2 separate regions of the Homo sapiens genome follow, and region 2 is linked to region 1. Evidence: fine-mapped expression QTL. A gene starts in region 1. The other region holds a variant in brackets. All regions are shown on one strand. Distances are between the middles of the regions.

Region 1 (5,000 bases):
CCAACTATTAATACATTAAGCCCCAAACCCAGGAGCTTCTCTGGGAGAAAGGGACTGCTGCTGAAGGCAGTGAGCATCTGGGTTAATCTAAGCCACAAAATATTTATAATGTTTTCCCCAGGACCAAAAAGGTGGCTATATCTCACATCCCTGATGGTATGGTGTCCCAGTTTCCAGTTCTCTATAAAACAGTTACTCTTCCCAGAAAGTCCTAGCGTGCTCAGGACCACACAGCGTGTACTCCACAGATGTGGCTGATGGTTTCATGGTTCAGGTTGGACAAGAAAAAAAGACAAGATGACCAGATGGAAAAGCTTACTCCTTTCTGCAAAACCTGGTGAATCCTGGAAGGCAGCTTCCAGAAACAAAACCGGAGGGTTCTGAAACCAGGAAGCCAGGAGGGTCATGTCTTCTTTTCCTAAACTGAACCTAAAACAAGGCACTTGGTGGTGTGTGTGGCTATGGGCCCCCCAGAAATTAGAATGCCAAAAGAGGTCCTACTTCAAATGAGCGGCGGGGGGTAGGTGTTCCCCTCAACCTGAGATGCCCGCTCAGAGCGTTAAGATGTGAATAAAGGCACTGTGGCAGCATTATCTGACCCTGAACCTTTTCATAAGAGCCTTTTTTTTTGGCTGTCAATACTTTTAGTTGACACATAATTGTACGTATTTATGGGTCCAGTGTGAGATGTTGATACACGTATGCAATGTGTAATGATCAAATTAGGGAAATTAGTGTATCCATCACCTGTAACCTTGATTTTCTTTGTTTTGGGATCATAAGAGATTTTTACAGACTTGAAGGATGTTGCTTCATCGGAGCACAAGGCTGAACTGGATATCTCTAAACAGACACAAAGAAACTGGGGCGTAAGCAGGATGCTGTCCTTAAAATGCCGAATGTCGGGGCTCTCACACAGCGCTCTTGTTGGCTAACAGATCAGAAAGACTGGAGGGGGATGGCCCAAGGGGTGTCCACTTGGGTGGAAGGCTGGCAGAGGCCTGCGTCCCTAGGGAAGTATTTCTTGGAGATAGCATAATGGCATCGGTCTTAAACCTTGCATGGAGATAGCCGAAAAATGTTCACAATTGAACTGTGACCAGCTGCCTGGTCTATCTGCAGCAGTGGTTCTAGAAACCTAGGAAGGGGTGTTCCAGGGGTGGGAATCTGGTGAGAGGAGGGAAATATCCTGAGGATAGGTCTTTGAGCTGGGTTTGCAGGGTAAATACACCACTTTATTCAGATGACTTGCCTTCTTTGGTGGGGAGGGTACTGATGGACTGTTATGGAAAGGTAGAGCCCCCACCCCCACTCCCTGCAACCCAGGTCTTGCATCTGCCACCGGCCAACCCAAAGAACATCCGATTGTCCTGCTCACACCTCTCCCAGGCACCCCAGCTTCCATGCCAAACAAAGGATGCCTGCAGGATCCTGTCAGGGCGTCCTTCTTCCTGTTTTGGGGATTATTATTTTTTGATTGATTGACTCCTTTATTCATTCAACAAATATTTTATCAAGTGTATGCTTAAGGAAGCAGCGACGAGAAAGACATTTACATAAGGCAGCTGCCCTCAAGGAGTTACAATATTTATTCCATGTGTGTCCTGAAATATTCAGGCCCCAAACACAACTTTTTTTTTTTTAACCTAAGTGCTTTTAAAGACTTCTTTGAAATGTGGGACAATTATGCAAGCTGAAAAAAAAAAGTATCTAGAGCAAATATTTAACTTTGCCTTTGGTATGTTGAAGTCACCAGCCCATGCAAACCTCTCAGGCATGTCCTGTAAGATAGACTGACTTACACACACACACACACACACACTCACTCTATGTAGGGGGCACAGTTAGGGGTTTGCATAATGCCGGGCTCCAGGGTTCTGGAGACAGTTCTACTCCACAGCTTGGACTCTGATCCCCACCCACACCTTCCAGAATACTGGAAAACTCAGAACACAGAGACCTCAAGAGCTTACTCAGAAACACGCAGCTCGTACTGGGGGAGACTCCCAGTGAATGATTAAGGCCTTGAGAAAATCTATCAGCCGATGGCTCACACGGCGGCCACAGCTCCAAGCTCAGGACCCGCCCCTTTGGGCTTCCGCAAACCTAGCAATCCGGAGTCCTGGATAATAACAGGATTCCTGGAGTCTCCGGAGGGTGCCTTTGGCCTCTGGGATTCACCCGAGCCGTTGGCTTTTGCTCCCCCCACCCCACCCCCTGGCTTTTCTTGGCTTGGAGGGCAGCTGGCGGAGATACCGTTGTGCACCCCTGGGCGGAAGGCGCCCCAGAACTGGTGGCCTGGGCAGCAGACGCCGGCGTATCACCCGGGTACAAAGTTTTCGTTTGCTCTGCAAACGTTTTGATGTGCAGGCAGCCTCTATTTCCAAATCCTATTATTATAAATACTCTGTGGCGGGAGCCAGCTGCGTTCGGGATAACCGTGCAGACCGAACCGGACTTTACAAAAATCAGGGACTTTCTCGTCCGCCGGCTTTGGCCAGGGAGGGGGAGGTCCGTGAGCCACGCAGCCCGGGGCGGGGCAGAGGCGGCCAGGGCGCCCCGCGGTCTCCCGGGGTTGCCACAACAGACCCCACGCGCACGCCCGAGCCGCAGCCGCGGGCGGGAGCGGGGTCGGGGCGGGGGACTGAGGTCCGCGGCGTGGGCGGGGGTGGGGGTCCAGGTCGGGTCGCCCGCGGGTCCTGGGCCGCACGCGTCCTTTCGGCGGCGAGAGGGCCCCTCCCCCACCCTCGCCGGAGCCAGCTCCCGCGCCGGGCGGGGCCGGGTCCTTCCCCACCCCCTGCACCTGAGCCGCGGCGGCGGCTCCTGAGCTCCGGCGGGGCTGGGCGCGGCGCCGCTCGGGTTCCCGCGGCCGATCCAGGTGTGCGCGGACGCTGGCGCTCCCGGGGGGCTCGGACCCGCCCCCGACTCGCCGAGCCAGGTGAGGCGGCGGCCGGGGACGCAGGGCGCGGGCCGGGGAGGACGGGAGGTGGCCCTTGGGCACCCGATCCTGCTCACTGACGGCATTTTGGGGGCATCTCGATTCCGGGAGCACCAACTACCGGGTAAGCGCAGTCCTGGACCCAGAGAGGCTGGAGAGGTGGGCGCTGGGGGGAGTGAGCCGCGTGTCCAGGTGGGGGTCGATTTTCCGTAGAGAGCCCTTCCCCCTGCATGCCTTTCTTCCCGGGCAGGGGCCGGTGTCGAAAGCTTTGGAAGCGGCGTGGGGGCAGAGCGCAGGAAGGAGCCCCCGCTTTATCTCCTGCGCGCATGGACCACGTAGTCTCTGGCGCGTCCTGCCCCTTCCTCTGGAACAGCGCGTGTGGCGCGACCTCCCCCGCTCTCCCGGGGTCTCCTTGCCCCGGGTCACCGCCCGCCAGCCCTAGGACCCGGGCCAGCGAGCCCAGCGGAGGAGCCGGCGCGGGGCCGCCAGGTGGCGCGCGGGGGCGGAGACCCGAACCGTGGCCGCCAGGTCCCCCGAGACCCCGCTGCGGTCACCCTGGCCCTGCACGCAGAGCTCCCATCCAGGCGCGCGCGGCGGCAGCAGCAGCTGTCGCGGAGAGGCCGGGGCCGGCGCGCCTGGTGCGGGCCCGGGGGTGGCGGGTCGGGCGCCCAGGTCCCGGGGGTCGCGCTGAGCCACAGCCGGGTGCCCGACCCCGGCCCGCCGTGCTCACCAGCTGGGATAGGGAGACCCGGCGGGCGCAGCCCGGCCGCCACCGTCCGTGAATTATGCAGGAAGCTGGCACCGGCGCGCTCGAGTTGATCAAGTTTCCCTGGCAACTTTCGCCCGGGCATCCCTCCTCCCCGGCGGCCGGGCAGCTCCGCCCGCCCAGCCCGCGGCCCAGGCGCCTCCACCGGGTGGCCCCGGCCCCGGGCGCCAGGCGCGGGGACCGCTCCCAGAGACGCCGACAGCGCACTCGTCACTTGGGCTGGAGCCGCCGGACTGAGCCAGCAGGTGCGACCACCGCAGCGGGCCTCGCCGCCCGGGTTCGGGGGGATGCGGGGGCTGGGGTGGACCTCGCCGCCAGGGTTCTGGGGCTTGGCGTGGGGGTGCAGCGCGGCGCCCTCCAGGCGGGTCTGCGTGCGGACACCCTGCTCGAGGTGGGTGGGCGCGTGGGCGAGGCTTGCCTTTCCGTGGGGCTGGAGCACCCAGAGGGAGAAAGGGTGGTGCAGGTGACCGTGGGTTTTCGCAGCCGATCTTTTAAAGGGGCTCGGGGCGCCTGGAACTGAGAAGGCGCTCGAGCCAGGCAGGTGAGGGGTGGGTGGTGGGGGGGTCAGGCGAAAGTACGTAAGGCTCTCGGGGGCTGGCAGCTGCTGGCAGGGGCCTGGGCGTCCTCAGAGGCCATCCGAAAATAAAGTGGTTTTCGGGTGGAAATTCGAGGTTGTAAATTGGATAGTTGAGTGACCTCTTTTTCGTTTGAAACTCAAGTTCGAACGTTAATGAGGCCAATCAGCTAATTAAGCTTCCAGATCCAGAGAGGTAATTTCGGAAGTCCCCCGGTGGGGGAGGGCGATTTGATCTCTATCTGGGATGTGGGCCTCGGTTTTGCCGACCCAGCCACAAGGGAAGTTCTGCGCCCCTGGAAAAGGACCTGGCAGATTCAGCCTTAACCCCGGTGCCCTGCGGTCCGCATCACATAGTTAGTGACGCCCTTCTGTGCACTAGGAACCGAGCCTGGTGCCCCAGAGGGTTCAGCAGGTCCAGAACAGCCCCGGGCCGATTGCTTTTGGAGTTTTCCAACTACTTGTGGGTTGGAAACAAGGTTGAGGGTCCTAATAGGGTTGAGCCTGTGGGGGTGGAGTGAGGAGAGCGAGCTCGGCCCCCATCTGGGTTCAGTGTTAATTCTGAGGGAAAGCCGTCGTGTCTGCTCTAAGAGGGGGATTGGTAGGTGGGAGCTGTGGGTTTCTATGCCGGATGTCACTGTCCTCTGAGGGGGCTTGAGGGAGACTCTTGTCCTGATAGGAATCTGGGTGTCCCAGTAGTGCCTGAATGATTCAGCTCCTGG
Region 2 (5,512 bases), 430 kb after region 1:
TACACCTCCCAGTCCTGGGGACTACAAGTCTGAGATCAGGGCATCGCAGGGCTGGTTCCTCCTGAGGCCTCTCTTGATGGCTTGCAGGTGCCACCTTCTCCCTGTGTCCTCACGGGGTCATCCCTGTGTGTGTGTCTGTGTCCTCATCGCCTCTTCTTATAAGGACCCCAATCCTATGGGATCAGGGCCCCCACTAATGGCCCTCCACCCAGATGATCTCTGTAAAGACCTTACCTGCAAATATTGGCACATTTTGAAAACTGGGGTTTAGGACGTCAACACACGAACTTGGGGGACACAGTTCAGCCCACCCCAGAGGCTCAACTTAGGTTGTGGGGAGGAGGCATCTTGCGGCAGGCAGCTCAGTGCCCTCTCTGCTTTGTGTGATGGGGTGGCCCGTCCTTACACATGCCCAAGCCAGCCGGACGTCTCCCAGGCCAGATGGAAGCTCAGACCCCACGTCCCTTCCATGCGAAGTACTGGCTTGAGCTCCGTGCCGTGGAGATGTTCTCCGTCCCCAGCCTGTCTCTCTGCTTCCATGTCAGGGGTGAGTTCTGGGCCTGGTGGAGTCCAGCTGGGGTCTCGGCCCAGAACTCACAGCTCCCCTCTGCTGGGCTCGCATGGGGGCTTGGACGCACGCAGGCCTGCACCTCCCTAGGGTCCCCACCCAGCTGACCACGACACAGATGCACTCACCGGCCTCTCTCCATGTCCTTCTCCCCAGTGCCCTTCCGAGAGGCCCCGGCGTACTCCAACCGCCGGCGGCGGCCCCCCAACACGCTGGCCGCCCCCCGGGTCCTGCTGCGCTCCAACAGTGACAACAACCTCAATGCCAGCGCTCCCGACTGGGCCGTCTGCTCCACGGCCACCTCGCACCGCAGCCTGTCACCCCAGCTGCTGCAGCAGATGCCCAGCAAGCCCGAGGGGGCCGCGAAGACCATTGGGAGCTACGTGCCCGGGCCCCGCAGCCGGTCCCCATCGCTCAACAGGCTGGGCGGCGCAGGCGAGGACGGCAAGAGGCCGCAGCCTCTCTGGCATGTCGGGTAAGGAGTGGCAGACGCCAAGGGAAGGAAGACCGCCACGTGCTGGGGGTCCCAGCTCCTCCAACTTGGGGTGGCCCAGAAGTTGAGCAGGAAGCCCATTTTATTCCAACCCAGATGTTGAGGAAACTTTCATGCCTGAGTTTTGCTCACTGTCCCTGCTGGCACGGTCTCCCCTTGGGGGGCTGGGGTCACCTTCCCGAGCCTCATGGAGGCACACGATGAAAGCTCGGGGCAGGTGTGCAGGCTGAGCTGAGCATCCTGGGGTGGACTGGGGATACTGCTGGCCTCTCGGGTCCTGTTTCCTTTCCTTGTGTACTGACTTCTTGGTCCTAAGTGAAATGTCAAGAGGGAGAGAGGCAGGGCTGCAAGCCTGGTCAGGGGTGTGTGCCCTCCCGAGGGCCATGTTTGCAAGCCTGCAAACACACCTTATCCAAATTGAGGGTGCACACGTGGGTGGCAGGGAGAAACCCAGCCCAGAGGAGAATGCTGGGGGCCGGAGAGGCCGGCTCAGGGCTCTGGCGTCTGGCTGTCTCAGCAGCTGCAGGGATGGTCTCAGGTAGCGCTAACCCTCAGGGGAGCACTTGCAGGCCTGGGTCCAGCATGGCAGGAGCACAGAGGGCATGTCTGTCAGTCTCTGAAGCAGCCCCAGGTGACAGGAGCCTGTGCCTCGTTCCATTTCCTAGACAAGGACATGGGCAGCATAGGGCAGACTTTGGGAACTGCCTGTGGTCTCCTGCCCAGCACCCCATTCGGCGTCCAACTCCAGGTCTGGGTCTCTCCCCACCCTCCTGCCTCCCAAGCAGCCAGGGGAGCTGGATTTGCACTCAGAGCTCCAACTCCCAAGCAGGTCTCTGCCTTTCTCACGCCACCTCCCAGAATTTTCAGTCGAGGAAGAGACTTCCCAGGGATCAGCTCATTGTCGGGGCCCCAGGTGCTAGGGTTGGTGTCGGTTCCAGCCACGAAAGCTGCACCTGCAGGGGCAGTGGCCGTTGCCACCGATGCCTCCACATTCTCATGGGTACAGCTGCTCCAGGAGTTCACTGTGCTGGCTTCTTTGCTGCAGACGCCTCTATGAGGAGCCCGAGGTCACACAGCCAGAACGTAGCAAGGGCAGGACTCGGCACAGGCCCCTGGCTCTGGCATCTGGTGACTTGGCACTCCCTCAGATTTGGGCCTTGGACCCGTGCTTCCCCGGCCGTTGCCATGTTTTTGGTGATGTCGGCATTCAGTGCTGAGGCCCCTGACCCTCGCCCCCATCCTACATGCTTCCTGTTTCCTCCCTGGCCTCAAAGCCACTCGGGGTCCAGAGCCTGGCTGCGGGGAGTCTTGCAGGCCTGGGTCATGCTCTGTTGCCAGCTAAGGTCAGGGATGTCAGGGAGGAAGACCGCCACCACCCCTGCCCCCAGGGGCTCCACCTGGCAAGCTCCGTGTGAGTTTGAGGAGGGTCAGTGCCTCACGTGGTCCCAGGAGGGGCTGATCACCCTGACTATGACCAGCAGCCCAGGCTTTGGGGCCACAGCCAAGGAGTTTGTGGGGAGAACATGCCGGTGAGAGCCCACTTCTCCCGGCCCCTAGACAGGGTCGAGGCCTGATCCTCTTAGAGCTGGCAGACCCCACGTCCTCTCAACGCTTTGGCCTTTAGCCCACAGACGCTTCCCACCAGAGCCAAACAAGGAGGTCCAGCTGC[T/C]TCTGGTCTAGATTCCTGCTTGGAAGGACCCCAAGGGAGGAGTCCCAGGTGCTGAGAACAATGGGAAGCTAAATTAAAGGGCTCCCCCGAGGCAGCCAATTCCACTTCACACACTTAGCAAGACTTCTGACTACAGTTTTAAAAAGAGTGTGTCCCCTTCACCCAGTACAAAATCTAATAAGACAGCAAAGGCAGCGTGGCCAGGGACTTGAGCTGGCTGCAGACTAGATGTGCTAGATGTGGCTCGGGAAAGAGAGAAGCAGCCGGGTGTATTGCAGCTGCGGTCTGACCATCCCTGTTTCCCTGTTCATGTGTGAGGAACGGGGGACAGAATGCACATGTGTGTGTGCATGTGTGTATGTGTTTGTGTATGCCTGTGTATGTATGTGCATGCATTTTTGTGTTTTTTTGGTCTGTGTGCATTTGCCTGTGTGCATGCTGGTGTGTAGACATGCGCGTGCATGTTAGAGAGAGAATCATTGTGTATGTGTGTGTGTGTGGTCATCATGGTGGCCAGCCTGCCTCAAATGCTCATTGCCTGGCCTCCTGCATACACGCTTCTGTACTGTACCATTGTATAGCTGCATAACCTTGGGCAGGTAAAACCCAATCTGCCTAATCTTTGTCAATTATAAAACAAGGGACCAGGTGCGGTAGCTCACACCTGTAATCCTAGCACTTTGGGAGACCAAGGCAGGCAGATCACTTGAGGTCAGGAGTTTGAGACCAGCCTGGCTAACATGGTGAAACCCCATCTCTACTAAAAATACAAAAATTAGTTGAATGTGGTGGCGCATGCCTGTAATCCCAGCTACTCAGGAGACTGAGACAGGAGAATCGCTCTAACCTGGGAGGCGGAGGTTGCAGTGAGCTGAGATGGCACCACTGCACTCCGGCCTGAGTGACAGAGCGAGACTCCATCTCAAAAAAGGGTCCCAGAAAGACCAACTTCAGGTTTTTCTCAAGATCAGCTGAAGGCGTTCAGGGTGGCCGCCTCCCACAGCACCTTGTCCAGCCAGTGCGCATTCCACATTGGTTCTTAGAGCCCAGGTCCATGTCCAACCCAAGACCCAGAGCTCGGCCAAGACTGTCCCCTTTGTCACCTAGAACCGTTGGTAGAGTGACCAACCATTCAGGTTTGCCTGTGATGTGGGACTTTCAGTGCTAAAATCAGGACAGCCAGTCCCCCTAACTGTGGGCCACTGCCTGTCCCAAGTCGAGGGGCACTGCTCTTACCTGGTGGCCCTGACCCGTCAGTCCCTTCTTTCTTGGCCTTGTTCCATCTTCCCTTTCCCCACCCCTTCACAGCCTCCCTGTCCATATCCATCTGTCCAGGATTCAGCATCCTCAATGGTAGCAATAGCTGTGCTGTAGGAGGAACCCTCTGGATGGGCACTGATGAGCTGAGAGGTCCTTCCCTTAAGACCCGTGTCCTAACTAGGACCTGCCAGTGGCACTGACGTCCCCTCCTATGGGACAGCAGTGGTGAGCATTTGCCTTCGAGGCGACCAGGTGGGATGGAGAGTTGGAGGCAGGCATGCTTCTCCAGGCATCTTTTTGAGGTCCCCTGGGATGAGGGTGGGGCATGCAGGTGCCACTGTTGTGTTCTGTCCCTGCATAGGGCCATATGCATTCGGGGGGCAGAAGTGTCTTTGCACGGTGAGAGGCACAGAAGGGAGCCAGTTCACTGCACATTGTTTGCTTATGGAGCAGTTACCCAGGCCCATGCTGGGCGCAGGGACATTCAGGTGACATAGCCGGGGTGCAAAGGCTGGTGCCCTGAGCACACTTGGTCTGAATGTCCTGCAAACAAGGTACAGCCAGGGGAGGGGGGCCTGGCTAGAGCTGTCTGCTTCCTGGCTGTGGACCGAGGCCCCATTGTGGAAGTGGCCTTTATTGAGATAGGGAAACGCTCATTCGGCCAGCCCTGGTGATGCTGGATGGTGGATCACAGGACTGTGCAACCCAACCCAGGGCCTTTTGGAGGCTCCAGGAGGTGGCTGAGCCCCTCTGCTCCTTGTTCATCCTCGAAGCTCAAAGCTCAGCCCCATGCCTTGTGCGCCTGCCTTACTATTCCTGAAAAACCAGCTCTTTCCTAGGGCAACGGGCCCTGGCCATGTGGCACTAACGGGCCACTTTCAGGGAGGCTGCTAGCTCCCAGCCTCTGGGGGCCCTGGGTGACCCAGAGCTCTTTCTGGTTACCATCAGAAGCATAAGTGACAGCGTGCTCTCCCTGCCGTGGAGGGGAAAGCCCTCCCCACTTCCTCCTGTCTGAAGGGTGGAGCAGCTGCCCATCAGCCCATGCTGAGCAACCGGTGCTGAACATCCCCCAAGCAGTGCTGACCGCCAGGGCTACCTGGCTCTACCCACCCGCCAGCTGACCTTGGGCAAGTCACTTGCTGGTTCTGTGCCTCTGTTTTCTCCTGTGTAAAGTGGGGCTGATGACTTTCACCCCCTCCCGAGTGTGCTGGGTGGATTAAGTGGCTTTCAGCACCTGGCCTGCACTGACATCCACAGCTGCTCATAGACAGTCTTCGGTTCTGCAGAAACGTCGGCCACTCTTAGGGTCGTCTTCATCTTCATCCTTATTGTGGACAGTGTAGAAAGACCCCGCTGGCTGCCATGGGGCAGGGAGCACAGGGTATCAGGTGTTATTGTCCCGGTGGCAGAGGCCTGTGTGGGCTAAGAAGCAGGGGAAGCAGAGATGGCCAGGTAGGAGGAGGCCGACTGTCCTGGGCAGGGAGGCGACTGGCCAGGTCCCCTGTCCCTCTGCACATGCTCA

Alleles and levels. Alleles are on the strand shown, and positions count from the first base shown. SD is a standard deviation of normalised expression in the study named.
As copies of C replace T in region 2, the expression in visceral fat of the gene that starts at base 2,786 in region 1 goes up (small effect, 0.34 SD a copy in GTEx).

Evidence for each region.
Region 2: its variant is fine-mapped to the expression of SHANK2 in visceral fat (GTEx, PIP 0.92).

What each region holds. Positions count from the first base shown.
Region 1 is chr11:71,250,363-71,255,362 of GRCh38, reverse strand. SHANK2 (SH3 and multiple ankyrin repeat domains 2) reads left to right here and starts at 2,786. Exons shown (of 26, transcript NM_012309.5): 1 at 2,786-2,938.
Region 2 is chr11:70,815,895-70,821,406 of GRCh38, reverse strand. SHANK2 (SH3 and multiple ankyrin repeat domains 2) reads left to right here. Exons shown (of 26, transcript NM_012309.5): 12 at 725-1,043. Among named protein-coding and RNA genes, the nearest start is that of SHANK2-AS3, 44 kb to the left of the region's middle. The variant T/C (reference allele first, on the strand shown) is at 2,731.